Linked DNA regions of Homo sapiens. The protein of the gene in region 1 purifies or fractionates together with the protein of each later gene. This does not show direct contact. Each region holds a gene or a part of one and is shown in the gene's direction. Other genes may lie near its edges.

Region 1 (7,480 bases):
TTAGCCGGGCGTGATGGCAGGCGTCTATAGTCCCAGCTACGCGGGAGGCTGAGGCAGGCTGAATTGCTTGAAGCTGAGAGGTGGAGGCTGCAGTGAGCCGAGATTGCGCCACTGCACTCCAGCCTGGGTGACAGAGCGAGACTCCGTCTCAAAAAAAAAGGCTGGGCGCGGTGGTTCACGCCTGTAATCCCAGCACTTTGGGAGGCTGAGGCAGGTGGATCACAAGGTCAGGAGATCAAGACCATCCTGGCTAACACCGTGAAACCCCATCTCTACCAAAAATACAAAAAATTAGCTGGGTGTGGTGGCGGGCACCTGTAGTCCCAGCTACTCAGGAAGCTGAGGCAGGAGAATGGTGTGAACCCAGGAGGCGGAGGTTGCAGTGAGCCGAGACTGCGCCACTGCACTCCAGCCTAGGTGTCAGAGTGAGACTCCGTCTCAAAAAAAAAAAAAAAAAAGAATTGTGGGTGGGTGCGGTGGCTCACGCCTGTAATCCCAGCACTTTGGGAGGCCGAGGCAGGCGGATCACGAGGTCAGGAGATCGAGACCATCCTGGCTAACACGGTGAAACCCCATGTCTACTAAAAATACAAAAAATTAGCCAGGTGTGGTGGCAGGCGCTTGTAGTCCCAGCCACTCGGGAGGCTGAGGCAGGAGAATGGCATGAACCCGGGAGGTGAAGCTTGCAGTGAGCCGAGATCACGCCATTGCACTCCAGCTGGGCGATAGAGTGTGACTCTGTCTCCAAAAAAAAAAAAAAAAAAGGAGGGGACATTGAAGCAACAACAACAAAAAAAAGAATTGTGCAGTCATCACCACAATTGCAGACATTTCCCTTGTAAAAGTTTCCTTCCATCTGTTTGCAGAGTCCCTACCCCAACCCCCACCCTCAGCCCATCAGCGATCTGCTTTCTTTTTTCTTTGAGATGGAGTGTTGCTCTGTCGCCCAGGTTGCAATGCAGTGGCATGATCTCGGCTCAGTGCAACGTCCGCCTCCTGGGTTCAAGCAATTCTCCTGTTTCAGCCTCCTGAGTAGCTTGGATTACAGGTGCGCACCACCACGCCCGGCTAATTTTTAAATTTTTGGTACAGATGAGGTTTCACCATATTGGCCAGTCTGGTCTCGAGCTCCTGACCTCAGGTGATCTGCCTGCCTTGGCCTCCCAAAGTGCTAGGATTACAGGTGTGAGCCACTATGCCCAGCCTTTTCTGTTTTTTTTTGAGACAGTCTCGCTCTGTTGCCCTGGAGTGCAGTGGTGCAATCTTGGCTTACTGCAACCTCTGCCTCCTGGTTTCAAGTGATTCTCCTGCCTCAGCCTCCCAAGTAGCTGGGATTATAGGCACTGGCCACTATGCCAGGCTAATTTTTGTATTTTTAGTAGACACGGGGTTTCACTATGTTGGGAAGGCTGGTTTCGAACTCCCGACCTCAGGTGATCTGCCCACCTCAGCCTCCAAAGTGCTGGGATTACAGGGGTGAGCCACTGCACCTGGCCTGCTTTCTGTTCGTATGTGTGTGTGTGTGTGTGTGTGTGTGTGTGTGTGTGTGTGTGAAAAGTGTCTATTTGAGTCTTTTGTCCAATTTTCAAAAACTGGATTGTTTATCTTACGGAGTTGTAACAAAGAGTTCTTTATGTGTTCTGGATAGGATTCTCCTGTCAGCCATGTGATTTGCAAATATTTTCTCCCAGTCTGGCTTGTCTTTTAATTTTCTTAATGGTGTTTCTTTTGAAGAGCAAAAGTTTTGAATTTTGACGAAGTCTCATTTACTGCTTTTTAAGTGGATACTGCTTTTGGAGTTATGTTTAAGAAATCTTGGGCCCAGGCATGGTGGCTCACGCCTGTAATCCCAGCACTTTGGGAGGCCAAGGTGGGCGGATCATGAGGTAAAGAGATTGAGACCATCCTGGCCAACATGGTGAAACCCCATCTCTACTAAAAATACAAAAATTAGCTGGGCGTGGTGGCACACACCTGTAGTCCCAGCTGCTCAGGAGGCTGAGGCAGGAGAATTGTTTGAACCCGGGAGGCGGGGGTTGCAGTGAGCCTAGATCGCGCCACTGCACTCCAGCCTGGTGAAAGAGCGAGACACCGTCTCAAAAAAAAAAAAAAAATCATACAGGCGGCTGGGTGTGGTGGTTCATGCCTGTCATCTCAGCATTTTGGGAGGCTGAGGTGGGCGGATCACCTGAGGTCAGGAGTTCGAGACCAGCCTGGCCAACAAGGTGAAACCTCGTCTCTACTAAAAATACAAAAATGAGCTGGACGCAATGGCGCACGCCCGTAATCCCAGCTACTCAGGAGGCTGAGTCAGGAGAATTGCTTGAACCTGGGAGGTGGAGTTGGGTTGCAGTGAGCCAAGATCATGCCACTGCACTGCAGCCTGGGCAAACAGTGAGACACCATCTCAAAAAAAAAAAAAAAAAAAAAGCGCAGGTGCAGTGGCTCGCGCCTGTAATCCTAGCACTTTGGGAGACTGAGATGGGTGGATTGCCTGAGCTCAGGAGTTTGAGACCAGCCTGGGCAACATGGTGAAACTCCATGTCTCCTAAAATACAAAAAATTAGTTGGGTGTGGCAGCATGTGCCTGTAGTCCCAGCTAATTGGGAGGCCGAGGCAGAAGAATCGCTGGAACCCGGAGCGCGGCAGAGGTTGCAGTGAGCCGAGATTATGCCACTGCACTCCAGCCTGAGCGACAGAGTGAGACGCCGTCTCAAAAAAAAAAAAACAAATAGAAAGAAAAGAAATCTTTGCCTAGGTCAAGGTCACAAAGATTTTCTCCTATTTTTTTCTAGCATTTTGTTGTTGTTGTTGTTGTTGGTTTTTTTTGAGATGGAGTCTCCCTCTGTCACCCAGGCTGGAGTGTAGTGGCATGATCTTAGCTCACTGCAGCCTCTGCCCGGGTTCCAGCGATTCTTCTACCTCAGCCTACTGAGTAGCTGAGATTACAGGTGCGAGCCACCACGCCCGGCTAATTTTTGGATTTTTTAGTAGAGACGGGGTTTTCACCATATTGGCCAGGCTGATCTCAAACTGACCTTGTGATCTGCCTGCCTTGGCCTCCCAGATTGCTGGGATTACAGGCGTGAGCCGCTGTGCCCGGCCTTTTCTAGAAGTTTTATAGTTTTAGCTCTTACATTTAGGTCTTTGATCCATTTAGAGTTAATTCTTTTTTTTTTTTTTTTTTTTAATTTTGAGATAGGGTCTTACTCTGTCATTCAGGCTAGAGTATAGCGGCATGATGTCACTCTAGCCTTGACTTCCTGGCTCAGGTGATTCTCCCACCTCAGCCTCCCAAGTAGCTGGGTTTTCCCAGCTATGTATGTGTACCACTATGCCCAGCAAAGTTTTTGTATTTTTTTTGTAGAGACAGGGTTTCACCGTGTTGTCCAGGCTGGCCTCAAAGTCCTGGACTCAAGCAATCTGCCCACCTTGGCCTTCCAGAGTGCTGGGATTACAGGTGTGAGCCGCTGTAGCTGACCAAATTAATTTGTTTCACTTATGGCTTGAGATAAAGATCTAAACCCCCCTTTTTTGTGGATGGAATTCAATTATTTTAGTATCATTTGTTGTAGAGACTATCATCTTCCCATCAAATTGCCTTTGCACCTTTGTCAAAAATTAGTTGACCTAAGCCAGGCATTGTGGCTGGATAACAAAGCAAGACCATGTCTCTTAAAAATCAAAACAACAGCGACAAGAACCCCACCAGTTAACCATGAATGTGAGGGTTTATTTTGGGACTCTCCATTCTGTTCCATTGATTTATGTGTGTCCCAGAAGTTCTCAACTGGGGCATTTTTGCCCTCTCAAGGGACATTTGGCCATGTCTGGAGACATTTGTGATTGTCACAGCTGGGGGCATCTGTTGGGTAGAGGCCACAGGACAGTCCCCCACAATTAAGAATAAATCGGCCCAGAATATCCATAGTGCTTAGACTGAGAAATCCTGGTCTGTTCTTAGACCAGCAGCACACTGGCTTGTTTACAGTAGTTTGATAGTAAGTTGTGAAATCAGGTAGCATAAGTTCTCCAACTTTGTTCTCTTTCAAAATTGTTTTGGTTATGCTAAGTTCTTTGCATTTCCATATACATTTTATAATTAGCCTGTCAATTATTTCTACAAAAGCAGCCTGCAATTTTGATAAGTATTACATTGGATATATAAATCTATGTGGTGAGAATTGCTGTCTTTACAGTGCTGACTCTGGGAATCCATGAACATGGTATATCTCTACATTAATTTTGATATTTAGCTTCTCAGTTGTTTTTTTTTTTCAGATAACTTTACCTATTTAAGGCAAGTGATATTTGCCAATCTATTACTGATATATTGCCTTCCCAATCTAGTAGTGATAAAAAATTTCCTTTTTTTTTTTTTTTTTTTTTTTTGAGATGGAGTCTTGCTCTTGTCACCCAGGCTGGAGGGCAATGGCGCAATCTTGACTCACTCCAACCTCTGCCTCGCAGGTTCAAGTGATTCTCTCCTGCCTCAGCCTCCTGTGTTGCTGGGACTACAGGTGCATGCCACCACGCCCAGCTAATTTTTGTATTTTTAGTAGAGATGGGTTTCACCATGTTGGCAGGGATGGTCTTGATCTATTGACCTTTTGACCCGCCTACCTCAGCCTCCGGAAGAGCTGGTATTACAGGCATGAGCCACTGCGCCCGGCTATTCTTAATAACAGTTTTGTTGAGATCTAATTCACAGCATACGAGTCACACTGAGAACATCTAGTCCAGTGGTTTTTTTTGTTTGTTTGTTTGTTTTTGAGACGGAGTCTTGCTCTGTCGCCCAGGCTGGAGTGCAGTGGCGCAATCTCTGCTCACTGCAAGCTCTGCCTCCCGGGTTCACGCCATTCTCCTGTCTCAGCCTCCTGAGTAGCTGGGACTACAGGCACCCGCCACTACGTCTGGCTAATTTTTTTGTATTTTTAGTGGAGATGTGGTTTCACCGTGTTAGCCAGGATGGTCTCGATCTCCTGACCTCTTGATCCGCCCGTCTCGGCCTCCCAAAATGCGGGGATTACAGGCATGAGCCACCGTGCCGGGACCAGTGGTTTTTGGTATACTTGTGTTGTGCAGCCATCACCACTGTCTAATTCCAGAACATCTTCATCACACCAAAAAGAAACCCAGTGGCCATGAAACAGTCACTCACGGCCAGGCGTGGTGGCTCACATTTGTAATCCCAGCACTTTGGGAGGCCAGGGCAGGCAGATTACTTGAGCTCAGAAGTTTGAGACCACCCTGGGCAACACGGCAAAACCTTGTCTCTACAAAAAATAAAAAAATTATCTGGGTGTGGTGGCGTCCACCTTTAGTCCTAGCTACCTGGTGGGCTGAGGTGGGAGGATTGCTTGAGCTCAGGAGGTCGAGGCTGCAGTGAGCTATGATTGCCCCACTGTACTCCAGCCTGGGCAGCAGAGTGAGACTCTGTCTCTAAAGAATAAATTAATAAAATTTGGCCGGGTGCAGTGGCTCACACCTGTAATCCTAGTACTTTGGGAGGCTGAGGCGGGTGGACCATTTGAGGTTAGGAGTTTGAGAGCAGCCTGGCCAGCATGGTAAAACCCCACCTCTATTAAAAATCCAAAAAATTAGCTGGACGTGGTGGTGGGTGCCCATAATCCCAGCTACTCAGGAGGCTGAGGCAGGAGAACTGCTTTAAACCAGGAAGCAGAGCTTGCAGTGAGCTGAGATCACGCCACTGCATTCCAGCCTGGGCAACAGTGCCCAGGCTTTATTTATTGAAAAATTAATAAAAATTGGCTGGGTGCCGTGGCTCACACCTGTAATCTCAGCACTTTGGGAGGCCAAGGCGGGTGGATCACCTGAGGTCGGAGGTTTGAGACCAGACTGACCAAGATGGAGAAGCCCCATCTCTACTAAAAATACAAAATGAGCTGGGCGTGGTGGTACGTGCCTGTAATCCCAGCTACTCGGGAGGCTGAGGCAGGAGAATCACTTGAACCCAGGAGGCAGAGGTTGCAGTGAGCCGAGGTCGTGCCATTGCACTCCAGCCTGGGCAACTAGAGCAAAACTCTGTCTCAAAAAATATATCTATCAATAAAAAAAATTATTATTATTATTATTGAGACGGAGTCTCACTCTTTCTCCCAGGCCGGACTGCAGTGGTGCTATCTCGGCTCACTGCAAGCTCTGCCTCCCGGGTTCACGCCATTCTCCTGCCTCAGCCTCCCGAGTAGCTGGGACTGCAGGCGCCCGCCACCGCGCCCGGCCAATTTTTTGTATTATTAGTAGAGACGGGGTTTCACCGTGTTAGCCAGGATGGTCTCCATCTCCTGACCTCGTGATAAAAATTTTTTTAAAAAGGGCTTGGGTTTCATAGTAGGATGCATTTGAAGGTAAAAGCAATCCTAACAGGCTGTGAAAATTGCAGCTGCCATTGGGGGCAACCCTGTAGGCGTGTGGTGGGAGGAGCACTAGCTTCAGAGTCCTGGGCTGATGGTAGCCCCTCCTGTGCCAGTGACTTCCTCAGTGGCCTTGGCCAGTGTTTTGCTCAATGGGGCCCCAGGTTTCCCTGGCTGAGCCCTGGGGGTCACCTCTGATTCCCTGGGCCCCTTTCAGGTCTGGCTGCCAGTCCATGTGAGCCAGCAGGGAGGGACAGGCCCTGGCCCTCGCCCAGCCCAGCCCAGCTTTTGTTTTTCATGATGCCCAGAAGTTTTCTGGAAAATGTTCTGTATTTCCTGGATGACCCTGAAGTGGTGACCACTCCTGCCTGCCCACCTCCCAGACCCGGTGCCGCCTGGGTCCGACATTGCCTGGCTTTCCCCGCGCCCTTCCGCTGTGTCCCGTGAGGCTCTCTAGCTTTGCGCTTTGGGGTCATCTTGTCCAGTGGACGACGGCGTGGTGTCGTCTGCACCATCCCTGCAGTGCCTGACTTGTGCTCGCTGAACAGCTGTAGAATTACCCGGAGCTCAGCCCTTTGCTGCGCCCTAGGAGGGGCTGGAAGAGGAGCGGCCTGTGTCCCTCTGCTTGTTTGTGGAGAAGCTGACCTGGAGCAGTGTTGGAGGGGTCCCTGGATCCTGAGCGAGTGTTCGGTCATTTGCCTTTCCATAGACCTGGGCGAAGAAGCGAGAGGTTTGAGGAGTGACTGAAATCAAGACCTGAGGCCGTTAGAAGAAACACCGTTTGCTCAGTCCTTTCATCCAGCTCGCGGGGGACTTGGGTCCTCTCACGTGGTCTTGGGTATGTGGCCTCAGCGGGGCCTGGCATCCCTGAGGTGGGCAGAAGGTTGCATTGGCTCCCCAGGGCTCAGCACTGGCGCCACTGCTCACATAACTGAAGCTTTCTTCTAACAGGGCTCTCGCCCCGCGGAACAGATGCTCTCTGTGATGTCTCTGAGAGCCCAGACTCCCAGGGAGCCTTCTGGGGAATCGAAAGAAAGAAAAGATTGCTTCAGTGCTTTGGGGAAAAAGTGTGTGTGTACATATACTGCACATAGACATTAAAAATC
Region 2 (7,480 bases), on another chromosome or scaffold:
TCAAAAAATACGGTCACCCTTGGTATGAGAAACAAAGTTGAAGTTGACGAGAATCATGGAAAAATAAGCAGAGGAAAAGAAGACAGGAATGGGAGACTCTTTTAAGTAGTTGAACAAGCCCTAATCTCCTTGTTTTCTTGAAGCTTATTCAGTTATAACTGAGGGCTTCTCTACTGTAAATTACAATAGTTACAACATGAACCTTGCATTCCAGAATTTCAAATGTGAATTTTAAAAATTGCTGCAATCTATAGCATGGAATTTAAGGTATAAAGCAGAAGAGTATAATAACAGGGGCATTAGAACATGACTGATAAGTTTTATGAACTTAATGGCAAGATTCTTAAAATTTTGGGGCTTTGGGCTTTGATTCCACCTGTAAAAATAGGGTGTGTTAAATCAGATGATCCCAAAATTCTTTCCAGCTCTACAATCACGAATTCATATGAGGTATAAATGTGTGTCAGCAATCTGAGATGGAAAAAAAAAGCAAATTTAAATTTTTTTCTCTTTTCTCTCCTATCTTGAAAGTATGGTTTTGTCTGACAAGAGGCCTATAATGATACCTGTTTTAATCAGAATTCATTTGAACTCTTAGGATAGTTGTTTTGGCTTTTGTACTGTTAGTCAATTTTTATTAATATTTTTTAAGAAATTATACGTTGATTTTAGATCTTAGTCATTACGAAACTGTTGGCACATACCTATTTCAAGTACCTTAATGGAGAGAAATGCTGATATGTATTGATAGTGGGATTGTGGTAGGAAATTTTGTTGAAGTTTATTGTTAGAGACTTTTCTCAAAAATTAAGAAAATTGAACCTATGAGCTGAACTGCTTTTGAACTATTTGAATTACAATTTCTACTACTTTTCTCTGCTTTTTTAGGAAATGTGAGTTCTTCTCCCAGATCTTCTGATTTAGTCAAATTAGCCCAAGAGTGCTGTTACCATAATAACAGGGGCATTGCAGCTCATGGAGTTAGAGTCCTAACTAATATAACTGTTTCTTGTCAAGAAAAGGGTAAGTTTGATCAGGACTGATATTACGTATAAACTTTGGTTTAGACCTTGGACAGAATTCTGTTTGATTTTTTTTTAATCCCTTATTTTTAGCCTGTGTGCCTTGATCTACAAATTGACTCCTTTCAAAGTGTTCTTAGAGCATGTGTTCTTAAGACTACTTTATCCTTGTGAAAAATAATAAAGAGATGAAGACCTTGGGAGTGGAATTGAAAGGTTTTATGGAGCATTGCCCATTTCCTTCCACTGCTTACCTTTGCATATATGGTGCATATATGGTGGATAAAGATTGCTTAGGACTCTACCCCTTTTGTATAAGGTGGTATGTTCACTTATACAAAAACCTAGAAAATTTACTTAGGTTCTCCAGGGACTTAAATAACAAATAGTTTCACCTAGAGGCAAGTGAATTCACAGACCAATGTGAATTAAATTTTCACAGAATTTACTCTAGGTATATGTGGCATTAAACTGACTTGCATAATCAAGGAGGACATGCAAGGAAAATAATGCACATATTTTGTTGTCTACCTAACATCTTTTGACTTGTGTTCAAGAACAAGAAATGCATTTTGGATATTCCATCTGTTTCAGTGCTGATTTTGATCTTCATTAAGGATTACAAGCTCAGTGGTTCCTCTTATCCCCCCTAGCCTTCAGCACTGCTTGTTCCTAGTACCTGTTTTTTTCTAGCAACCTGACCTTCACTAGCCTTTACTCTGTTTGCCAAGCTCCTGCACTCAGGAAACATTTCTTAAAGTTGAAAGTTGATTCTGATTTGGATAATTAAGCCTGTTTTATATTGGCATCACAAAGAGTATTTTCTTCCATGTAACACAGAAAACTGCTGTATGTTCTCAACACTGAAATATATTAACCTAAAGGTAACTAATATATTCAGAACTTTCTAAAACCTTCAGAGAAATTTTAACCCTATGGTAGTGAAAAGATGTTCTAGTGCTGCTATTTCATGAGACATCTAAGAGGTTCATTCTTTATGGTCAGACTTAAAACAGTAATAAGGTTATGTGGAGACCTTATTATTTCCTAAAAGTGGTTCAGCTTTCATTAGAAGCTGAAAACTGTTATATCTTAGGTAAAAATGGACCTGCATAATTTATTTCTGATTAGGGAGATTAACACATACTGCATAGTTTGCTGTTCTTAGTATTTTCCTTAGCTAAGCTGGTGACACTATTTCAGTTTTGCTTTATTTATAGCTTTGTGGCTTTAGCTCTTGATTTAATGTGTATATTTTTATAAATACTTCAATAAAGTGGTAGAAATAAAGTCTGAAGATAGACTTTACATTCTAGAAGTAATGCCACATGTACTTTTTCAAGGAAGGTTAGGTTCATCCATTTAATAATTCCCTATATCTTAAACTCCTTAATGTTTTTTCTAAGAGAGTGTGTATGCATGTATATGTGTGTGTGTTTGTACACACATCACTTGACCATCATAAAGTTTACTGTTTTTCTTCTAGATCTTTTGGCACTGGAACAAGATGCTGTCTTTGGCCTGGAATCCCTACTGGTACTTTGTAGTCAAGATGATAGTCCAGGTGCTCAGGCCACTTTAAAGGTGAAAACTTTTATTTATTAAGTTGTAATAGATATATATGATGGTCTTAGGCAATAGAAAGCAAAGTTAAGCAGACATAGCTCCTGTACTCTTAGAAGTTTTAATCTAAGTGATTAAATCTAACTGATAAAACTACACTGATTTAATCTAACTGATAAAACCACAAAAAAACTGATGACATGACTGCAGCCGACTCATAAATGTTCATTAATTTAACATAAGCGTTCATTAATTTCCCAGTGGTATAAGCCCTAGTTTATAAGCCAAGGGAAGAATATTTTAAGGAATTTTCACCTTCACTTAGTTACAGAAATCATCTTAGAGATATGCAAGATTTTTAAAATGTGAAATGAGGCCAGGACAGTGGCTCTCATGCCTATAATCCCAGCATTTTGGGGCGGTCAAGGTGGAAGGATTGCATGAGCCTAGGAGTTCAAGACCAGCCTGGGCAGCATACTGAGACCCCATCTCTAGAAAAATTTTTTAAAATTTAGCTGGACATATTGGGGCACACCTATAGTCCTAGCTACTCATGAGGCTGAGGTGAGAGGATTGCTTGAGGCCGAGAGGTTGAGGCTGCAGGGAGCCATTATTGCACCACTGTTCTCTACCCTATGTGAAAGAATGAGACCCTGTCTCAAAAAAAATAAATAAATAAAATGTGAAATGAAACTACTCTTTTTGGAGTGAAACGTGAAATATAATTTGTGATGGTGCAAAATTAATGAGGAGAAGCATAGTTAATAGAAGTAAGAAACTGTTAGATAAACATTGGCGTTAGCTTGTCTAAGGTGTGGTTTCAAGGAAGTCATGGCTCATTTTAGCAGGTTAAGGAAAGTTGTGATATGGTCATAGTGATGAACAATAAAGATAGTAACATCATTAAGTGACAGCTAATAAGAAGTAGAGAAGGGAAGTAGACAACATGTGTTTGGCAACACATTCTGAGGGGGATCCTCAGAATCCCCTTGGAACCACAGTACATTTAAGACTTTTTTTAAAAGCAAATCTTTTTTCCAACAATTGTGGGTGTCAGTAAAATGCTGGATTCAGCACAGTGGGACATACATAGATGGCCAAGAAAGGTTCCTGTAATAGAGGAGCTTCCCATCTAGAATAGGCTACTGATGTTTATATAGGGGACTATAATACCAAGCGGAACACAATACATTCTCTGATATTTCACAAAAAAAGTGCAGTTCTAATGAGAGGTCAGAGTCGGGAGTGATTAACTTTAACCAAGGGTATTAGGGAAGACTTTAAATAAATGTCATATGAGTTGAGTTGTGAAAGATGGAATCGAATTACAGTAATGAGGAAAGATTGTTTGAGCCCAATGACTGCTGTTATAAAAGACTTGAAAGTAAGAATGTACCTGTTGTGGTGGAAGAATGGTGACTAGCCCACTGTGGCTGGGTGAAATAATTTGAGATTTGGAAAAGTAGTTCAGTCATAGAGGATATCAAATAACATGGTATTATGGCTTTGATTCTATAGGTAATGAGGAGATAATATAATTTTAAAGTAATGGTAACCTTTGTCGTAATTATTATTGTTATTTGAATGTCTATTATGTGCCAATCTTTGTTGAAGACTTATATATACATTTGTTTCAGTCCTTCAATAACCCTATAATGAAATGTGTTCTCCTCTTATACACATCAGAAACTTAAGGCCGAGAGAGAGAAGTACCTTGTTCAAAGCCACCTAGCTAATAAGGGGCAAGCTGAGCTTCAGCCCTTGCATTTATCAGACTCTAAAGTTATGTGTGTGCCTGACACCCCACTGATGGCTACATGGCTGCATTGTGAAGGATGGATTGAAGGGCCCATCTTTTCAAGAAATTGGAATTAGGAAGAGATTTATGATGTGGTAGAGAGAATGGAAAAGTGCCAACAGTGGATATTGGAGGCTTGACAAAAGAATCTGTTAGCTATGTAAAAGTGGGAATATTTCTAGGTTTCTAGTTTTTTGGCTGGATATTAGTGATGCCTTTAAGAAGGCCTTGGTAAGAGAAATTCTGTAGCCAAATTGGTTTTTAGATTTCAGTTGAGAAATAAGAGAAAATTGGGAACCTCTTTCCCACTTCAGTGTACTTAGAGTCATCTAAGCCGTCTTTTTAAAACTGTGAAACCTCAGTAGCCTCAACACACACACACACGTATGTTAATTCAGGAATCTATATTTTTATTTTCATTCTGGGAGATGCTGGCATAGTTTACAAGCCACACTTCAGAAGCAGTTCCTGAAAAGTAATGATAATACAGTGATGGTGACATTTGGCCTATATTTGCCTCTTCAGCATTATTCCTTATGATTTCCATCTTTCTTAAAAGTATTTTAATAGTCTTAGATTGAAATGAGTGGTTGACGTGCAGTCCTAATTTGTTATTTTAAACGTAGTGCACTTCACAAACCCTAATGTGAGATTCAGTACCTCATATTTCTTATGAAGTAAAATGTTATGCCTACAAGAAACCTCACCCTTGAGTTTCCCCAGTAACCTGTACAAAGCTCTTTTCCTTAAAGCTTCATCTGTATCTTCAAAATGTAACTAGTTCATTTTCTTTTTGGCGTGCAGATTGCTCTAAACTGTATGGTGAAGTTGGCCAAGGGCAGGCCCCATCTTAGCCAGTCAGTAGTTGAGACCTTGTTGACTCAATTGCACAGTGCTCAAGACGCTGCCCGGATTTTGATGTGCCATTGCCTGGCAGCCATTGCCATGCAACTGCCGGTGCTGGGTGATGGGATGCTTGGTGACCTCATGGAGCTGTACAAGGTGATTGGACGATCAGCCACAGACAAGCAACAAGAACTTCTGGTAAAAAGCCCATTTTGAATCTCCTTTGAATGACTAGGATCTGGTCTAGTGGGAATTACTTTTAAGTCAACATTACTATTTGACTTTACTTAAAAAACAGAACAAACAATAGGTTAAATTCATTACCTAAGACCAAAGAGTGTGCTGATGTCAAAATAGAATTGGCTTTATGAGCTTTTTACTTTTTTCACTTTTGATTTAGAAAGCCGTGTTTTGTTCACCTCTAAAACTGCTTTCTTCCGAAACCCTGTCAAATCAGCCTAGTATAGCCAAAGCCTTCAATCTCATGTTTTTTTTTATTGCAAAGGACAGAATGAAAATGAAATTTTTATCTTTCTTATACAGAGTAAATAATGAACTAAACCCTGTTTTGTACTTTAGAAAATAGAAGTTAAAAATCTAATGATAATAATGACCATAAATTAGCCCAAATTTATGTTTTCCATTCCAGGACCTCTTTAGCTGTTTAGGATCCAGTTTAGGCTTCTGTAGACCCTTGAGGTTGGGAAAGGTACATGCTTAGAAAGAAACAGAAGCTGTGGAAGCTATAAAATGTTTAGTTGAAAAGTTCTGCAGGACTGAGAGTAGGCTACATTCTAAATAATTGTAAATTAAATGAAAGTTGTAAGGTTGCCATTCCATATTGTTCTGTTCATCTTAATTTAGAATGTGGGAAAAAATATAATGAAATAATTTATTCAAGCCTGTTTTATGTTTAATCCTCCAGAGGGAATTGTGTAAAAGATTGACCCCATCCCATCATTTGCTGCCAGAAAAGGTTACCTTGATGACCAAATGTATGGATCTTTATATGAATCAGCTTTGAAATATTAAGAGGCAGTTAGCTAAGTTTATTTTTTATTGAAGTGGCATTTTGAACTAACGGTCCTGATATCTTTTTTGTGAGTACTACCTTAAGATTGTCTTAAATTATGAAACATAATATTCAAAAAATCTGAGGAATAATACAGTGAAAACTCTTGCATTCATTATCTAGCTTAAGAAAAAGGTATTAACAGTTTAGTTGAAGCCCCCTGTTTACCTTGCTGATAGCATCTCCTCCCTTCTCTCAGGTAACCACTATCCTGAATTTGGTATTTATCATTCTCATGCCTGTTATTCTTTTACTACCAAAGTGTATATCCCTAAGTAATATGCAGTATTTTGCATATTTTTAATTTTATGTAAACTTTATCATACTACTTGTAATCTTTTGCATTTTGCATATTTTTGCGTATTTTGCTTGTCATCTATGTTGGTAAGTCTGTCGCTAGTTTATCCATTTTATTTACGTATCTCATTGTTTGATTATGTTATATAATTTATTCATATTATGGGTATTGCTTCTACTTCTTTGCTGTTATAAAGAGTGCCCTGAGTGAATGGAATAAATTAATGACTTCAAAATAAAAAATTAAATAAATGTCATTGGAAAACAAATTTTGTTCTTTTGCAGTGGGCTCTAATTAGTTTTCCTCCCTTTGGGGTAGGTTATCAATGACACTGAATAAAATTAAATGATTTTCTTGGTTTTCTTCTTGCCCAATGTTAGGTGAGTTTGGCTACTGTGATTTTTGTTGCAAGTCAGAAGGCATTGTCTGTGGAAAGTAAGGCAGTAATTAAGCAGCAGCTTGAAAGTGTCTCCAATGGATGGACTGTATACCGTATTGCCAGACAGGCTTCCAGAATGGTATGTGTTACCCTTCTGAGTGAACTGGGTTGCTGGAAATGTCAGATCATGTATCTTCAATTGTATGATTATTAGTTGTAGTCAAAACTAAAAATAAAGATGGAAGTACCTTTTAGTCATGGGTTCTGAAGATGAGGAAGGAAAGGACCTGATTTTTAACTTTTATCATAAAAGAATGGTATCTATGTTGTTGGCATTAGTAATGAGGAAGTTAAAATCTGGACCCTTTCTGGCTGTAGGTTGTTAGTGCCACTTTCATTTTGCTCTGTATTGTTATAACCAAGGCCACCTACCACCCGCTGTTTCTATCTTCCTTTCTCAGTATACCACATCTTTGTTCCTCTCCCCAGTCTTGTCATTCTT
Region 3 (7,723 bases), on another chromosome or scaffold:
GAGCACATTTGGTTCTCTCTACCCGATTTCTCCAGAATTTGGAAACTGTAAGTATTCTTAACTTATGACAATACAGTTATTTGCATAAGTGCACTAATAATCTGTTTTCATTTGTAACAGGACACAATTGGGGAAACTGGTTGTTTACCAATGCTTTTACTTGACTTACGGAGCCAATTAAACCCCCTTGGAAAAACCGTCCTCATAACTTTGTCTACACAGCTCCTGTACAGGGTTCCTGACCTGTGGTAAGTAAAGAATGTCACTTTCTGACAGGCCCAGGAGCCTCAAGTTTATCTTGGAACCTCAAGAGGAGAGGATCACCAAACTCACAGGTATTTGATGGCACAAATCCATGGCTGGGCTCAGCTTTTAAAAAGTCTTATCTGAAATACCCTCTATGGAACAAAGTTCCATCAAAGCCAATTTAAAAGCCAATGTTAAAAAATAATTATTCTTGCTGCACTGTATACAAATAATTCGGCCAAATATAATAAGGCAAACCTATCATGATTTGTCTTTAGTATAAATGGGAAACTAGAGACTGGAAAACTATAGTCCACCAGTTGTTAGATTCTAGTCTTGCCTAATGTTTTTCAATTTTTATCATTTTCTACAGTTTGGACCAAATTCTAATTTTTGTGGGCTACAAGTCTTCAAAATAATGTTTTCAATTTTTTTCCTTCTTTTTTTCCCCATTTTTCCTAATTTGGAGTCACTTAAAACTAAGCTGTCACTAAACTAAGTCACTTAAAACTAACTTTCGTGAAGCCCTGTGAACTGAAGTAGACAACTTAAACTTCAGAAGAAAATAATGGGAACCTATTTACATACATAAGCCACTTTCATACCTGCTTACTGATGTATGGACTTCAGAGTAATGTGGCCTAGATCAATTTTCCAAGATTGTTCTTATTGTTCTCCCTTCCTCCCCAAATTTTCTCTTGATAGGATATTAGACTTCACAACCTTCTAAAAATGAGCTTTCCTAATAACTCAGGACCTACCCTTCTAGGAAAAAACCATCCTAGCCATGAGAGAGCAGATAAAACCTGGGAACAGAAACTTATTTTCTTCAAAAATGCTTTCTCCAAAATATTTTAAAAAAGAAAAGGGGGGAAATGTGAAAGGAAATTACCTTGGAATCCCATAATCACTAAGCTAATGGGAAAAGTCAAGCTGGGAACTGCTTAGGGCAAACCTGCTTCCCATTCCATTCAGTCATCCCTCTGCTCACTGAGATAAATGCATGTCTGACTGCCTCTTTTAGAAAGGTGAATCAGAAACTCAAAAGAGTGCAACCATTTGTCTCTCACCTACCTGTGACCTGGAAGCCCCTCCCCACTTCGAGTTGTCCCATTTTTTCTTTGAGTTGTCCCACCTTTCCTGACCAATATTCATTTTACATATGTTGATTGATGTCTTATATCTCCCTAAAATGTATAAAACCACCCTGTGCTCTGACTATCTTAGGTACATGTCGTCAGGACCTCCTGAGGCTGTCATAATCGTGTGTCCTTGACCTTCGCAAGATAAATTTTCTAAATTAACTGAGACCTGTCTCCAATTTTTGGGGTTCATACAGGTTAAATTGTAAAAGATCTGTGTCAGAGGAGGAAGTCCATTCAGAGGGTTGGGGGGCCTTATTTTATTTTTGGTTTATAGGATTCTGACCCTTTTTATTATTTCAAGTTGGCAATGAAAAAAACAGCAAAAGTATATAGGACTAAGGATTCTAGGCTGGGTACAGTAATTCACACCTATAATCCCAGCACTTTGGGAGGCCAAGGTGGGAGGATTGCTTAAGCCCAGGAGTTTGAGGCCAACCGGGGCAACATATGAGACCTCGTCTCAAAGAAAAAAAAAATATGTAGAAAACTAGAGAGGATAAATTAAAATTCCAATAAGAAAAATATATTAACCTGGAAACCTACAGGAAATGGGTGATTGCCTAATAAAAATACACATGAACAAAAGGAATCCTAAAATAAGAAACATACAAATAGGCCAGTTAGTATAGAAAAGCTTGGAATGATGCTTAGACATCTCTCACTGGAAAAGACCCCAGGGACATACAGATTCAGAGTTAAGTTTTAACTGAACTTGGTTAAATTTGTTGACCTTCAGCAAATCCTGATTTTATTTAAAATGGTCAAGGCCTAGTTGAGGGAAGGGGAAAGAAGTGATTTTCTTCAATTACTTTTACGGTATAATTTCTGTGAAAGGAAAATAAAACTCAGGACCACAAAATCACTAAACCAAAGGGTAAAGTCAAGCTGGAAACTATGTCAGGCAAACCTGCCTCCCATTCTATTCCTAAATAAGATAGCTGCCAAGATAAGAGGCTACGTACCTCCCTTAAAATTTGCCCACAAGGAAATTCCTTGTGGATAAAGGACAGACAGAACTCAAAGTTATCCCTTTAAGGTGCGCCTGAGACAAATGCATATCTAATTGCTTCCCCTCCCCTATTGTTTACGTAAAAATGATAATTCACTGAGCCAGACTAAATTGTGTATTCAGTGGAAGGCTGATCAAGGACTCAAAAAAATGCGATCTTTTGCCTCTTATCTACTCATGACCTGGAAGCCCTCACCTCAAGTCCCGCTTTACCTGACTAAAGTACATCTTACACATACTGATTGATGTCTCATGTCTCCCTAACATGTATAAAAGCAAGCTGTACCCTGACCACCAAGGGCACATGGTCATCAGGGCCTTCTGAGGCTGTGTCACGGGTGCAACCTTAATCTTGGTGAAATAAACTTTCTAAATTGATGGATGCCGGATGTGGTGGCTCATGCCTGTAATCCCAGCACTTTGGGAAGCTGAGACGGACAGATCAACTGAGGTCAGGAATTCGAGACAAGCCTGGCCAACATGGTGAAACTCTGTCTCTACCAAAGATACGAAAATTAGCTGGTTGTATTGGCACACACCTATAATTCCAGCTGCTCAGGAGGCTGAGGCAAGAGGATCGCTTGCCTGGGAGGCGAAGGTTGCAGTGAGCCGAGATCATGCCACTGCACTCCTCCAGCCTGGGTGACAGAGCAAGATGCCATCTCAAAAAAGAAAAAAAAAAATTGATGGAGAGTTAACTTTTGGTTTACAATGTAAATGTTTATTTAAAAACAGACATTATTTTATGTACCATTACAAATATACTGCTACCCAGCTGCTCGGGAGGCTGAGGCAGGAGAATGCTTGAACTCGGGAGGCGGAGGTTGCAGTGAGCCGAGATCGCACCATTGCTCTCCAGCCTGGGCGACAGAGCGAGACTCCATCTCAAATAAAACAAAAACAAACAAATATACTGCCAACTAAACTGTGATTTTGTCAAAAATAAATGTTGTTGATGACTTTACTTCCATTAAAGCCACTGTAGTAGCCAAGGGAAAGCTTCCTTTTTGTCCTCTGAAGGTTCACTGAAAAGTCAACTGACAAAAGGCACATTAATTGGAGAAAGGGCATACAAATTTATTAACATGCACATGGGGGAGAACCAGAGTGATTTTGCTGAAGCCCCAAATGGGGTTCAGAAACTTATATACCATCTTGAGGTTACAGAATGGGGGTTTGGATTGTGGCATAACAGGTTATGCGGGTGGAGACCTGGCTGACAACCACGGTCTTGTTATGTAAATGAAACCTCCTAAGTAGAACTCCTTAAAGAGAACAGGTGGTACATGTTTCTTTCAGACCTTTGCAAACCAACAGTAAAATTCTAAACCCTCCAACCGACTGATGGACCCTCTGCTTGCCCAAGGGCATTCTGAAGTTAACCTGAAAAACTAGTTCAGGCAATGATGGGAAGTGGGGGTTGGCCATGCCTCATTATACACTCCTCCCTTGGAATTCAGGTACAGCAAGCCAGCACTAACATTAAAACAGAGACCTTAAGACTGACAGAAAAGACTCTTCTGCAGAGGCTTCTTCATTACTCTCAGGCACACAGGATTCTTGGTTTCCGCTGTAGGGTCCTCACTTTACCTGTTCAACCTTCATTTGTCTTTCACTGCCTACTCTTGGTTAGCACTCGGCCAGCGCACAGGTTTCCCACACCCTGAGGTGGACACCAGCAGGGAAGGTTTGCGGGAGGGCTCTGCCTCCCTGGCGGCCACCCGCAGGCCCACAGCAAGACATGTGCAGAGGTGAGCGGAGCGCCGTCACCAGCTGCCACTCTCCCAAAGACCAGAACCATCCCAGAGCACCCGGAGGCACCAGGAAAGCGGCTCGGAGGCAGAGGCGCCAGGGGCGGGGCTGATGCCGAGAGGTTTCCTCTGCCCCGTTCCCTCGCATTGGTCCTGCAACCGCTCCCGTCAGACGCGTTTCCGCCTCCTGTCCTCCGGAAAGGTGCCCGCCTCTTGCCTTCCGGCCCGGCGCCCGATTTCCGCCTTCCGACCCAGCTGTGGGCTGCGCCCCACGCCAGCCCGCGCCCCGCATGGCTGCCGCCGGGGCCAGGCCTGTGGAGCTGGGCTTCGCCGAGTCGGCGCCGGCGTGGCGACTGCGCAGCGAGCAGTTCCCCAGCAAGGTGGGCGGGCGGCCGGCATGGCTGGGCGCGGCCGGGCTGCCGGGGCCCCAGGCCCTGGCCTGCGAGCTGTGCGGCCGCCCGCTCTCCTTCCTGCTGCAGGTGTATGCGCCGCTGCCTGGCCGCCCGGACGCCTTCCACCGCTGCATCTTCCTCTTCTGCTGCCGCGAGCAGCCGTGCTGTGCCGGCCTGCGAGGTGAGCCGCCAAACGGGGTCGGGACGGGGCCATGCCTCCGACGCGTGCGCGGCGTTAATTCCGGGAGCGACCAGGGGGACGGCGGCAAGCACCGCTGCCGCCCCAGCCTCAGAGCTCCCTCTCCGCGCTGCCCCAGGAGCACCTTCTCCCGGGCCCTTCCAGGATGTGCTCATTTTTGCTACATAAGCTTCTAACTGTGCCCACGCGCATTGGTAACCCCCAGCTTTTAATCAGTGGGTACCAGGTATGGTGTTAATTCAGATAATAGAAATTGTCTTGGAAAGATGGATCCCAGTAGCTTTTTCGTATTTTTGGCAGTCGTTCTTAACGATCAGTCTTATTAATTTGATTAACTCAAACCACCTCTAGGAGGCAACTCAGTTGCGTGTACCGGACGAAATCTAGTTTCTGGATTTTAAAAGCTTATTCCTGAAAGCAAAAACTTTCATTTCTTTTTTGTTGTTGTTATTTTCAGTTTTACGTGCAGAGGATAAAATATGTGAATTGCTGTTTTGTTTGAAGATAAAACTTTTCTCTGTATTCTTTTTTAGTTTTTAGGAATCAACTACCCAGGAAAAACGATTTTTACTCATATGAGCCACCTTCTGAGAATCCTCCCCCAGAAACAGGAGAATCAGTGTGTCTCCAGCTTAAGTCTGGTGCTCATCTCTGCAGGGTTTGTGGCTGTTTAGGCCCCAAAACGTGCTCCAGATGCCACAAAGCATATTACTGCAGCAAGGAGCATCAGACCCTAGACTGGAGATTGGGACATAAGCAGGCTTGTGCACAACCAGGTGGGTAATCTTTTTTTTAAGTCTCAGTTCAGTTTCATCGCCTTTGTCAACCCAGATATTTCCAGGACAACTTTAAAGGTAAAATTAGGAAAGGTATAGTACTTTAAAATTTTTCATGCCTGGAACACCTTTGTAAAAAAAAAAAAAAGGCTGTGAAGTCTGAATCACTGAATAATGTCACCATATAGGCATTTAATTTATGACCCTTTATCTAAAATGCCAGAACTATAGGGAATATAGTACTTTAGAGACAGCAAATTATTAGACTGTCTTCAAAACTAAATGATTACTAATAGTGCTGTCCTTTTTGTTTCAGATCATCTGGACCATATAATTCCAGACCACAACTTCCTTTTTCCAGAATTTGAAATTGTAATAGAAACAGAAGATGAGATTATGCCTGAGGTTGTGGAAAAGGAAGATTACTCAGAGATTATAGGGAGCATGGGTAAGCAGTTTCAGGACTTCATTCATTAAGTGGTTAAACATAATACTTGGAAGAAAGGGCTCCATGTGCCTAGAAGAGAGGTACTGAGAGGAAGACTCACTTTGGAGGCTGTAGCATACAATTTTCAGATATTGCCTCAGGTAAAAATATACTTCCTGGACTTTGTTTTCTGACACATAAGAGGTGTGTTCTGCTCCCTGTAAAGACAAGGGTGGGTATCCAGATGGTCCCATGAGTAGGGCTGCACAAGATGCTGGAGGCTTGGTAAGTTCCTCTGGGTCGCAGATCGGTTTCTCGGGTCGGGATAGTGTGAGTGCCTAGCACAGTGTCGGGCACGCAGAAGGGCCCCTTAAAAGTTTCTCTTTCATCTGGCCAGTTTTAGATACACAATTTTGTCAGTTTACTTACAGTGCATACTCTTGGGTAGTACTTGTGCTGACCAAGTATCTTAGAGGCTTATTTTATTATAGTAGCCAACATTTATCCAGCACTTACCTTATATAAAGGGCTGTTTGTGCATGAGCTCATTAAAATCGTGACAGCAGACCAATGAGTGAGAAACTGCCCCATTTTGAAGGTGAGGAAATTGAGGTTCTGGGTATAACTTTCTTTGGTCACATAATATTAAATTTTACAATTTGAGCCTTGAGCCATACACAAAACCACCACAAAATTAGATTTATAGACTCAAAATGAAAACATCAGCTTACTGGTTTGTAGTTCATACCAGTCATACATTCCAAAACATGTTTTGAGTCTTACTCTGTGCCTGACCTTGTGCTTGATAACAGGGATATAATGGGAAGCAACACTCCAGTGGTCAGATGCTCACAGTCTTATGGAGGAGCCCAAATAATATCTGGGGAAGTTAAAGTCCATATAATGACTGATAAGAGTACAATACAGGTGCCATGGGAACACGTGACATCACTGAAGACTGCCTGGAAGGGGCCGCGCGTGTGTTCATGCCTATACGATAAACATGATACATAATGAAAATGCTTATCTTTAGGAGAAAGGAGAGCCTAGAGTAGCAGGATCAAGGATGAAAGCTGGACTTCAAATATGCCTTGTTAGTGTAAATGTGACTGTGGAACTGTATGAGTATTTTAAGATTATGGAGTAAAGTAAGTTTTAAAAAGCAGTCCCTAATCATCAAAAGTAAAAAACTCTTGATGTAGTCATATAACCACACTAAGAACTCTTCCAGGTGACTTCAAAACATAGGACAGTACATCTCTAGTAGAATATGCCCTGAGAATGAAAAGAATGTAACAGTGTTAGTATTTTGAATAAACATGTTATTACTAGACTGTTGCTTTTATTTTGAGATGGTTGTGTGTGTATTGGGGGGAAAGGAAACGAGTAATTATGTTGGTGTTACTGAGAACTGAGATGTTGGGCGTAGGAGGAAGATAATGTTGATTGTGTCTACGTACCATTTCTCTCTAAAAGGAACTCCAGGCTCTTTGGAGAGGTGGTTGATTCCAGAACTAGGTCAGGAAACGTTCATATAATGTGGGAACATGGTCATATCAAAGATTAAGGATAAGGATTACTAGGGCCATGTCAGAACTCAAGCAACATGAAAAGGCTCCTGCTTGCAAAAGATGGACAGTTTGAACATCCACAAGGACGCTAACTGCATCAGATATGTTTAATGGGTTCAAAATGATACTTTAAAAAAACTCAGTAATCATCTTTATAGGATACTTGGGAACAGACTCATTTTCAAATTGGTAAATAAAAGGAAAGAG
Region 4 (7,175 bases), on another chromosome or scaffold:
TTTTTAAGACTGGATAGGAATTTATATAACGAATATAGTCAAAACCCTTCTTATCCCTAATAAGAAAACTTTCTAAATGAAAAGCCTACCCAAAGCAAATATTTCCTTTCACTTATTCATTCATTCACTCAATTGTATCTAATACAGCGATTCTCAACTCAATCCTGGCTGCACATTAGAGTTCCCTGAGCAGCTTTTAAAAATGCAGATGCCTGGGCCGTGCTTCCAGATGATTCTAACTTGATCTTGGCTAGGGCCCAGGCCCTGTTTTTTTTTTTTTTTTAGACAGAGTCTTGCTCTGTGGCCCAGGCTGGAGGGCAGTGGCACGATCTTGGCTCATGGCAACCTCTGGCTCCCAAGTTCAAGCAAGTCTATGCCTCAGCCTCCCAAGTAGCTGGGATTACAGGCACCCACCACCACGCCCGGCTAATGTTCGTATCTTTAGTAGGGATGGGGTTTCACCATCTTGGCCAGGCTGGTCTTGAACTCCTGATCTCATGATCCACCCGCCTCGGCCTCACAAAGTGCTGGGATTACAGGCGTGAGATGCCGCGCCCGGCTGGCACTGTTATTTTTTAAGCTGCTGCATGATTGTAACATGCTGCCAGGTTGAAAACTACTAAGCTAATATTCCCAAACATGTCTGATGTGCCAGTCACCGTGGTGGTGCTAAGGATTCAGTGGTAGAGACACTGCCACAGAAGGTGATAGCTTTCTGCCATCAGGATTCACAGGCCAAACATACCGTCTCCTCTGTCTAGAATACTTCCCTTGTTCATTACATAATTAATTCCTCATGCTTTGCATCTTAGATTAAATATCACTTATTCAAAGACATTGTTGCCCTTCTATCTAAATTAGCTCCCATATTGTTTGCCCTCAAGGAATCCTTTCTCTTTCGCTTCATGACACTTATCTCGGTTGTAATTACAGGTATTCCTCCGCCATTGGAACTCTCACGATCAAAACTCAGGACCAGATAGATTTTAGTAATGAGGAAGAAGAGGCAGACTTACCTGAAGAGTGTAAAGTTTAAGCTTCAGGGCTCTTGTGGTAGGCTGGATAACAGATCCTCAAAGATGTCCACATCCTAATCCTAATCCCCAGAATCTATGAATATGTTGCTTTGCATGGTAAAAAGAACTTTGCAAATGTGATTAAGTGAAAGATCTTGAGATAGGGAGATTATTCTGGATTATCCAAGTGTGCCCAATATAATCACAAGGGTCCTTATAAGGAGACAGGAGAGTCACAGAGGAAATGCAAGGACAGAAGCAGAAGTCAGAGGGGTGTAAAAATGCTCTACACTGCTAGCTTTGAGGATGGAAAAAGGAGCCATGAGCCAGGGACGTAGGTGGCCTCTAGGAGCTGGAGAAGGCATGGCAACCAACTCCCCTGAGAATCTCCAGAAGGAAAGCACTTCCCGCACTTTGATTTTAGCTCAGCGAAACTGATTTTGGACTTCTCACCTCTTGAACTGTAAAATAATCCTTGTTTTAAAGTATTAAATTTAGGGTAATTTGTTACAATGACAATAGGAAACCAATATATAGCCCTCCCTTGTTCAGGCCCCTTCCAAGGCCCTGGGAAGCAGTGCTGATATGGTTATATGTTTTTGTAAAGCTTGCAAAATTAAAATACTTTACCTACAATTGATTAAGATTTCTCTCTTTCCACTGAGACTTCCGGAGTATTCTTCTACTGGCTAACATTGGAGTGACTACAGGCATTTTTGGGATCCAGCTAAACAGAAATGCAGCTGGGGGTACTTTGGTTTGCATTTAATGGGAGACGTTCATGTGGTTCGTGGTCACTTCCATGCACTATTAACTTATTGCTGGAGAGTAGGAATGGCTTCTGCAAATGCTCCTGTATTAGTCCATTCTCACACTGCTATGAAGAAACACCTAAGACTGAGTAATTTATAAGAAAAGACGTGTGATTGACTCACAGTTGAATCACAATTCTGCATGGCTGGGGCAGCCTTAGGAAACTTACAATCATGGCAGAAGGCACTTCTTGACAGGGTGGTAGGAGACAGAATGAGTGCTGAGCAAAAGGAGAAGCCCCTTATAAAACCATCAGATCTCATGAGAACTCACGCGCTCTCATGAGAACAGCATAGGGGAAACTGCCCCCATGATTCAATTATCTTCACCTGGTCCTGCCCTTGACATATGGGTATTATTATAATTCAAGATGAGATTTTGGGCAGGGACACAGCCAAACCATATCAGCTCCTAACAGCCACTGTGTCAAAGTGCCCAGGTGTGGTAACATGAAGGAGCCATAGAATATGTGCAGCATGCAGTTCACTTTAATCTCATCAGAGAAAAAAGCTGTCTTCACCATCCCTACATTTTTTCATATCAATCAAAAGCAGTAATTCATGAAGAGGAAGAGATAAATTTGAATAGAAGTAATGGAGAGGCTCTCAGATTGTTGGATGAGTCAACTAATGAAGAGTAAATCTTATTAATACATTGGGAAAAGCTTTAATTTCCTTGCTAATTTGTCATAGTTTATAGGCATCAGTGAAGATATTATAAACTCAATACACAACCAGAAGGAGGACATCAATAACAAACTGATTAATAAATGTCATCAATTTAACAAGTAATATTGCTGATTAGTCATAGCACAATAAAATGTGAAATGCCCTAAGATCTTATAACTTTTTTTTTTTTGAGATGGAGTCTTGTTCTGTCACCCAGGCTGGAGTGCAGTGGTGAGATCTCGGCTCATTGTGACCTCCGCCTTTTGGGGTTCAAGGATTCTTGTGCCTCAGCCTCCTGAGTAGCTGGGATTACAGGTGTGCAACACCGTGCCTGGCTAATTTTTGTATTTTTGTAGAGCCAAGGTTTCACCATGTTGGTCCGGCTGGTCTCGAACTCCTGACCTCAAGTGATCTGTCCACCCCAGCATCCCAAAGTGCTGGGATTACAGGTGTGAGCCACCGTGCATGGCCAGATCTTATAATTCTTACATGAAAGAAATGTAATAGTGATTTCCTCTAATATGACAATAGTCCTAAACCTTTACATGACACTTTCAAGAACAAATTATTAGATGGTGTAGGTGGTCCTTGAATGAATGAACCATGAGATACCCTAGAGCAGGGGTGTCCAATCTTTTGGCTTCCCTGGGCCACATTGGAAGAAGAATTGTCTTGGGCCACACATAAAATACACTAACACCAGCAATTGTTGATGAGCTAAAAAAAAATTGCAAAAAAAAAAAAACTCATAATGTTTTAAGAGAGTTTATTAATTTGTGTTGGGCTGCATTCTAAACTGTCTTGGCTGCATGCAGCCTGCAGGTGTGGGCCAGGGGTTGGACAAGTTTGCCATAGAGCGTGGCTTGGTTGGATGAGGGTGCTAGAATTCAGAGGACGGTCACTGTGCAGTGAGAGTTGTCTTGGCTGTAGGACTGGAGTTGGTAAAATGAAAAAAAGAAAAAACTAGTTTTGCATGAAAGAATGTTTCCAGCATATGAATGTCCCACCACACTTTTAGTTAGTCTTGGCTGTACATGTTGCAATAAGTCAAGGAACCCTACAAAGTAGGATGGAAGGATTCAAACTGCGAATCGCTTGAACCCGGAAGGCGGAGTTGGAGTTTGCAGTGAGCCGAGGTTGAGCAACTGCACTCCAGCCTGGGCGACAGAGTGAGACTCCGTCTAAAAAAAAAAAAAAAAAAAAAGATTCAAACTGCTTTTGAAAAAAGTAAAAATGCAGGGTTATATTTTAGAAATAGTGCAGCCAATCATTAGTGGCTATTCCTAATATGTCAATTTCGGGTCTATAGAAGACCTACCTAGAGGCCAGCAACTATTAATTGATGCTTATAGCACCTAATGAAACTGCCCTTGCCTTTGAAGCCCCCATTTAGCTAAGGGGATGGGATGTGAATTTAGAATAGGACGTGAAAAGTGCAAAATGCTCCCGGACTCAGATCGGATAAACCTCTTCTAGGCTGTCTTTCTCTTCTGAAGCCACAGTTTTGATGCTTTCCCTAATTCAGAGCAGGCTTTCCCGGAGTCTCTGACTCAGAGCAGCCCGAGCCACCGTGAGGACCGCCCACCTGCAGGGGGCGCGCCGGGGGCTGCAGCGCGAGACCGCTCTGGCCCAGCGGGGACTCCGACTACCCCTGTCTGGCCCCTCCCCTCCGCCCGTCACCGCCTCCTTGAAGCTGCCGCTGTCGCTGCTGCTCGTTCGAGTCGCAGGTACTTGGCCCGGGGCCTGTGGGCAGCGCCTGGGCTAGAGCCACTTGATATCTCCTGCACCGTCCCTGTAGCACTGGAGGTCCAGTAGGCCTGGCCGGGGCCCTGAGGGGCGAGGGTGCCCGGGCTTCCCACACCTTCCGCGGCGACTGGAGGGAGCCGGGCCGAGGAAGCGACCGCGGGTCCGTGATGGCTTCTTCGCGGTCTGTGTGTTCACGAGGGCCGGGCAGAGGCCTGCGAGGGTTCTCGTTTGCGCTTGCGGGTTAGGGCTGTGGTCCGGGGAACCCCTGGGCAGCGCGGGCAGCCCTGGCTCGCGGTTAATCGGGGGGTGGAGCGCGGAAGCCACGCCGCAGGTCCAGCTGCTCGGCCGGGGCGAGACGGTGCTTTCGCGGCGTGTGCTTGCAGGAGCGCACAGTTCAGGCGCCGGGACAAGCTGTTGGGGTGTGAGTGAGCTCTCCAGAATGGCACATGGCTCCGGGGTGCCCGGGTTAAAAGGAAGGATTTGCACACCTTCCACTTAGGGCTCGGGTAATCGCAAACTTCCTCCCTTAATTGGCTTGCAGTGCTAAAAAGCAGATCGTTCTCTCTGAGGTTTTCCCAACAGTACCTCAAGAAAATAACATCTGTTTTTTGTAACGTTCCACGGTATTCGGAATTGGCTACAGAACATAATAAGGTAAAAATATGCCATTGAATAGTAGCGCTTCTCAATCTTTAAAAAATGACGGTGGTACCTAGGAGCCTCTTAAAGAGCTGTAATATGAGTGGTGTGGGGATTATTTTTATGTTCTAGTAATAGCTATTTTCAGTGCTTATTTTATGTCAGACACGGTGCCATTGCTTTAAATACCTGGTACCTTTAATCCTTGAAGCAACCCTATCAGGTACCATTTCCATTATACAGATAAGGAAACTGAGGCACCGAGAGTCTGACTTCTCCAAGGTCAGAAAGCTAGCAAAGGCTGAGCGAGATTTGGTCTCATCTCCCTTACTTCAGTATCCCTGCGTCTGTTATCTAGCCAAACATGTAGCGCTGTCTAAGAGTTTTATCAATTAGATTTGTAGCCTGAACTGATTTCTCTCAGGCTTAGTTTTCATGGTTATATGCAGGAGTCCTACATGAACTCCTTTTTAGTTTAAAAGGAGTTTAGTAAGAAAACTGTTAGCTCATTAAGGACTATAGTGATAATAAAGTTAAACTTGGACTGGGGTTCTCACTGTGCCAGTACAATTTGATTTGAAATAGAGATGAATTTGTTTGGTTGTTAACACACTTTATTACATTTCTTCATTATTTATGTTTCCATACCATTTTTTAGTGAGTTCACTTTGCCTTTGCATTATTATGGTAGCAGTACCAGAGGGAAATCAAAGATTTTTTGATGATAGTAAGTTAATATTTTACAGAATACAGGAAAGGCACTGGAGAGAGGATGTGAAGTGATAAGGAATTTTTGGCATGTTATATAAATTGTGTTACTATGGAAAACAAAGGATTCTCACAGTTCTTTATCAAAAGGGAAATTGTATTTCCCATTGTGGAAATAAGTTGGGCTTTATAGTCCCAAACTTCTTAGCCTTACCTATTATAGATTTAAGAATTTGCATATTCGGCATTCATATAGCAAGCGTATATTGAGTGCCTTCTATGGCCAGGCTCTGTTCTAAGCACTGGGGGATGTGAGAGTGAACAAAATGAAGTCCTTGTCTTCCAGGAGCTAACATGTCACTGGAGGAAGGTGGGGTTGGGGACGATAAGCGGGATTTGTGAAAGTTAACGTATCTGGAGTCAGATGGTAACAGTTACTAGGAATAAAAATAAAGTAGCAAAGGGGGATAGGAAGCACCAAGGAAGGAACAGGTGCAGTTTTAAAATAAGGACTGGTGCCATGGAAAAGACTCAAGCAAAACTGAAGGCGTTGGGGACCGCCATGCAGCTGTCTAGGGAAAGAGCATACCAAGCAAGGGCAAAAGCCCAGAACCCTTCAGTCTTGTTAGAGGGACAGCAAGAGAGGAACAGCAAGGAGGCCAGTAGATTTGAGCACCTGGAGGGAAGGAGGGTGAGACAAGGTCAGAGAGCTAATGGGCCCAGGTAAGGACTTTTGCTTTTACTCTGAGTGAGAAGGGAGGTGTTTGGAGGGTTTTGAGCAGAGGAATGAGGGGATCTGGCTTAAGGTTTTTAAAGGATCACTCTGGCTGCTGTGTTCAGTGTTGACTGTAAGGGCAAGGATGGAAGCAGGGAGACCTGTTAGGTTGATGCAGTAATTGAAGCCAGAGAGAATGGTGGCTTAGACCAGGTGGGTAGTAAGAGAGGCAGTAAGAAGCCGTCGTATTCTGAGTATTGCTGATAGGATTTGCTTATGGTTTGGATGTGCTTATGAGAGAAAGGGTGAAGCACGACCCTGTGGCCTTTGGCCTGAGCTATTGGAAGGCTTTAGTTAAACAGTGTACTGAGATGGAGAAGACTGAGTGTGAAGGTAGGTGGAGCCAGTTTTAGTCAGGTTTGAGATGCCTGTTCAAGTGGGGTTATAGAGACGGGAGTTGAAGAGAAAGGTCCAACTGGAAATAGAAATTTGGGAAGTCACTAATGCAAGCTTGTGCAACCCAAATTTGTAAACTTACTTAAAACATTATGAGATTGATTGTATTTTTTTTTAAGCTCATCAGCTATCGTTATATGTGTGCCCCAAGACAGTTATTCCACTGTGGCCCAGGAAAGCCAAAAGATTGGCTACCCCTGCACAGAAGGGTAGTATTTAAAGCCATGAGCCTATGAGATCTAGTGTAAGGAAATGAGAATTGAGCTCTAGGGCTTTCCACATTCAGATATTGGAGAGATGAATAATTACAAAGGAGAGGCTTTTGAAGGTAGGAGGAAAAAGAAGCGAGTATGGAGTACTGAAGGCCAAGTAAAGAGTTTTTCAGGGAGAAAGTGACCAACTGTGTCTCCTCCT

Evidence for each region.
Region 2: the proteins of MGRN1 (region 1) and INTS7 purify together in Homo sapiens (affinity purification with mass spectrometry; 2 studies listed by BioGRID and IntAct, with this or other methods). This does not show direct contact.
Region 3: the proteins of MGRN1 (region 1) and PDCD2 purify together in Homo sapiens (co-immunoprecipitation; 3 studies listed by BioGRID and IntAct, with this or other methods). This does not show direct contact.
Region 4: the proteins of MGRN1 (region 1) and ANKRD46 purify together in Homo sapiens (co-immunoprecipitation; 4 studies listed by BioGRID and IntAct, with this or other methods). This does not show direct contact.

What each region holds. Positions count from the first base shown.
Region 1 is NC_000016.10:4,627,640-4,635,119, forward strand, and holds part of MGRN1 (E3 ubiquitin-protein ligase MGRN1), read left to right. Parts: intron 1-7,480. UniProt on the Homo sapiens protein: E3 ubiquitin-protein ligase. Mediates monoubiquitination at multiple sites of TSG101 in the presence of UBE2D1, but not of UBE2G1, nor UBE2H. Plays a role in the regulation of endosome-to-lysosome trafficking.
Region 2 is NC_000001.11:211,976,219-211,983,698, reverse strand, and holds part of INTS7 (integrator complex subunit 7), read left to right. Parts: intron 1-888; coding exon 889-1,023; intron 1,024-2,508; coding exon 2,509-2,606; intron 2,607-5,187; coding exon 5,188-5,427; intron 5,428-6,154; coding exon of another isoform or gene 6,155-6,253; exon of another isoform or gene 6,254-6,867; intron 6,868-6,979; coding exon 6,980-7,117; intron 7,118-7,480. UniProt on the Homo sapiens protein: Component of the integrator complex, a multiprotein complex that terminates RNA polymerase II (Pol II) transcription in the promoter-proximal region of genes.
Region 3 is NC_000006.12:170,581,300-170,589,022, reverse strand, and holds the start of PDCD2 (programmed cell death protein 2), read left to right. Parts: upstream 1-4,385; 5' UTR 4,386-4,441; coding exon 4,442-4,724; intron 4,725-5,275; coding exon 5,276-5,518; intron 5,519-5,834; coding exon 5,835-5,966; coding exon of another isoform or gene 5,967-5,995; exon of another isoform or gene 5,996-6,757; coding exon of another isoform or gene 6,758-6,765; exon of another isoform or gene 6,766-7,723.
Region 4 is NC_000008.11:100,556,760-100,563,934, reverse strand, and holds the start of ANKRD46 (ankyrin repeat domain-containing protein 46), read left to right. Parts: upstream 1-4,175; 5' UTR 4,176-4,224; exon of another isoform or gene 4,225-4,897; intron 4,898-7,175.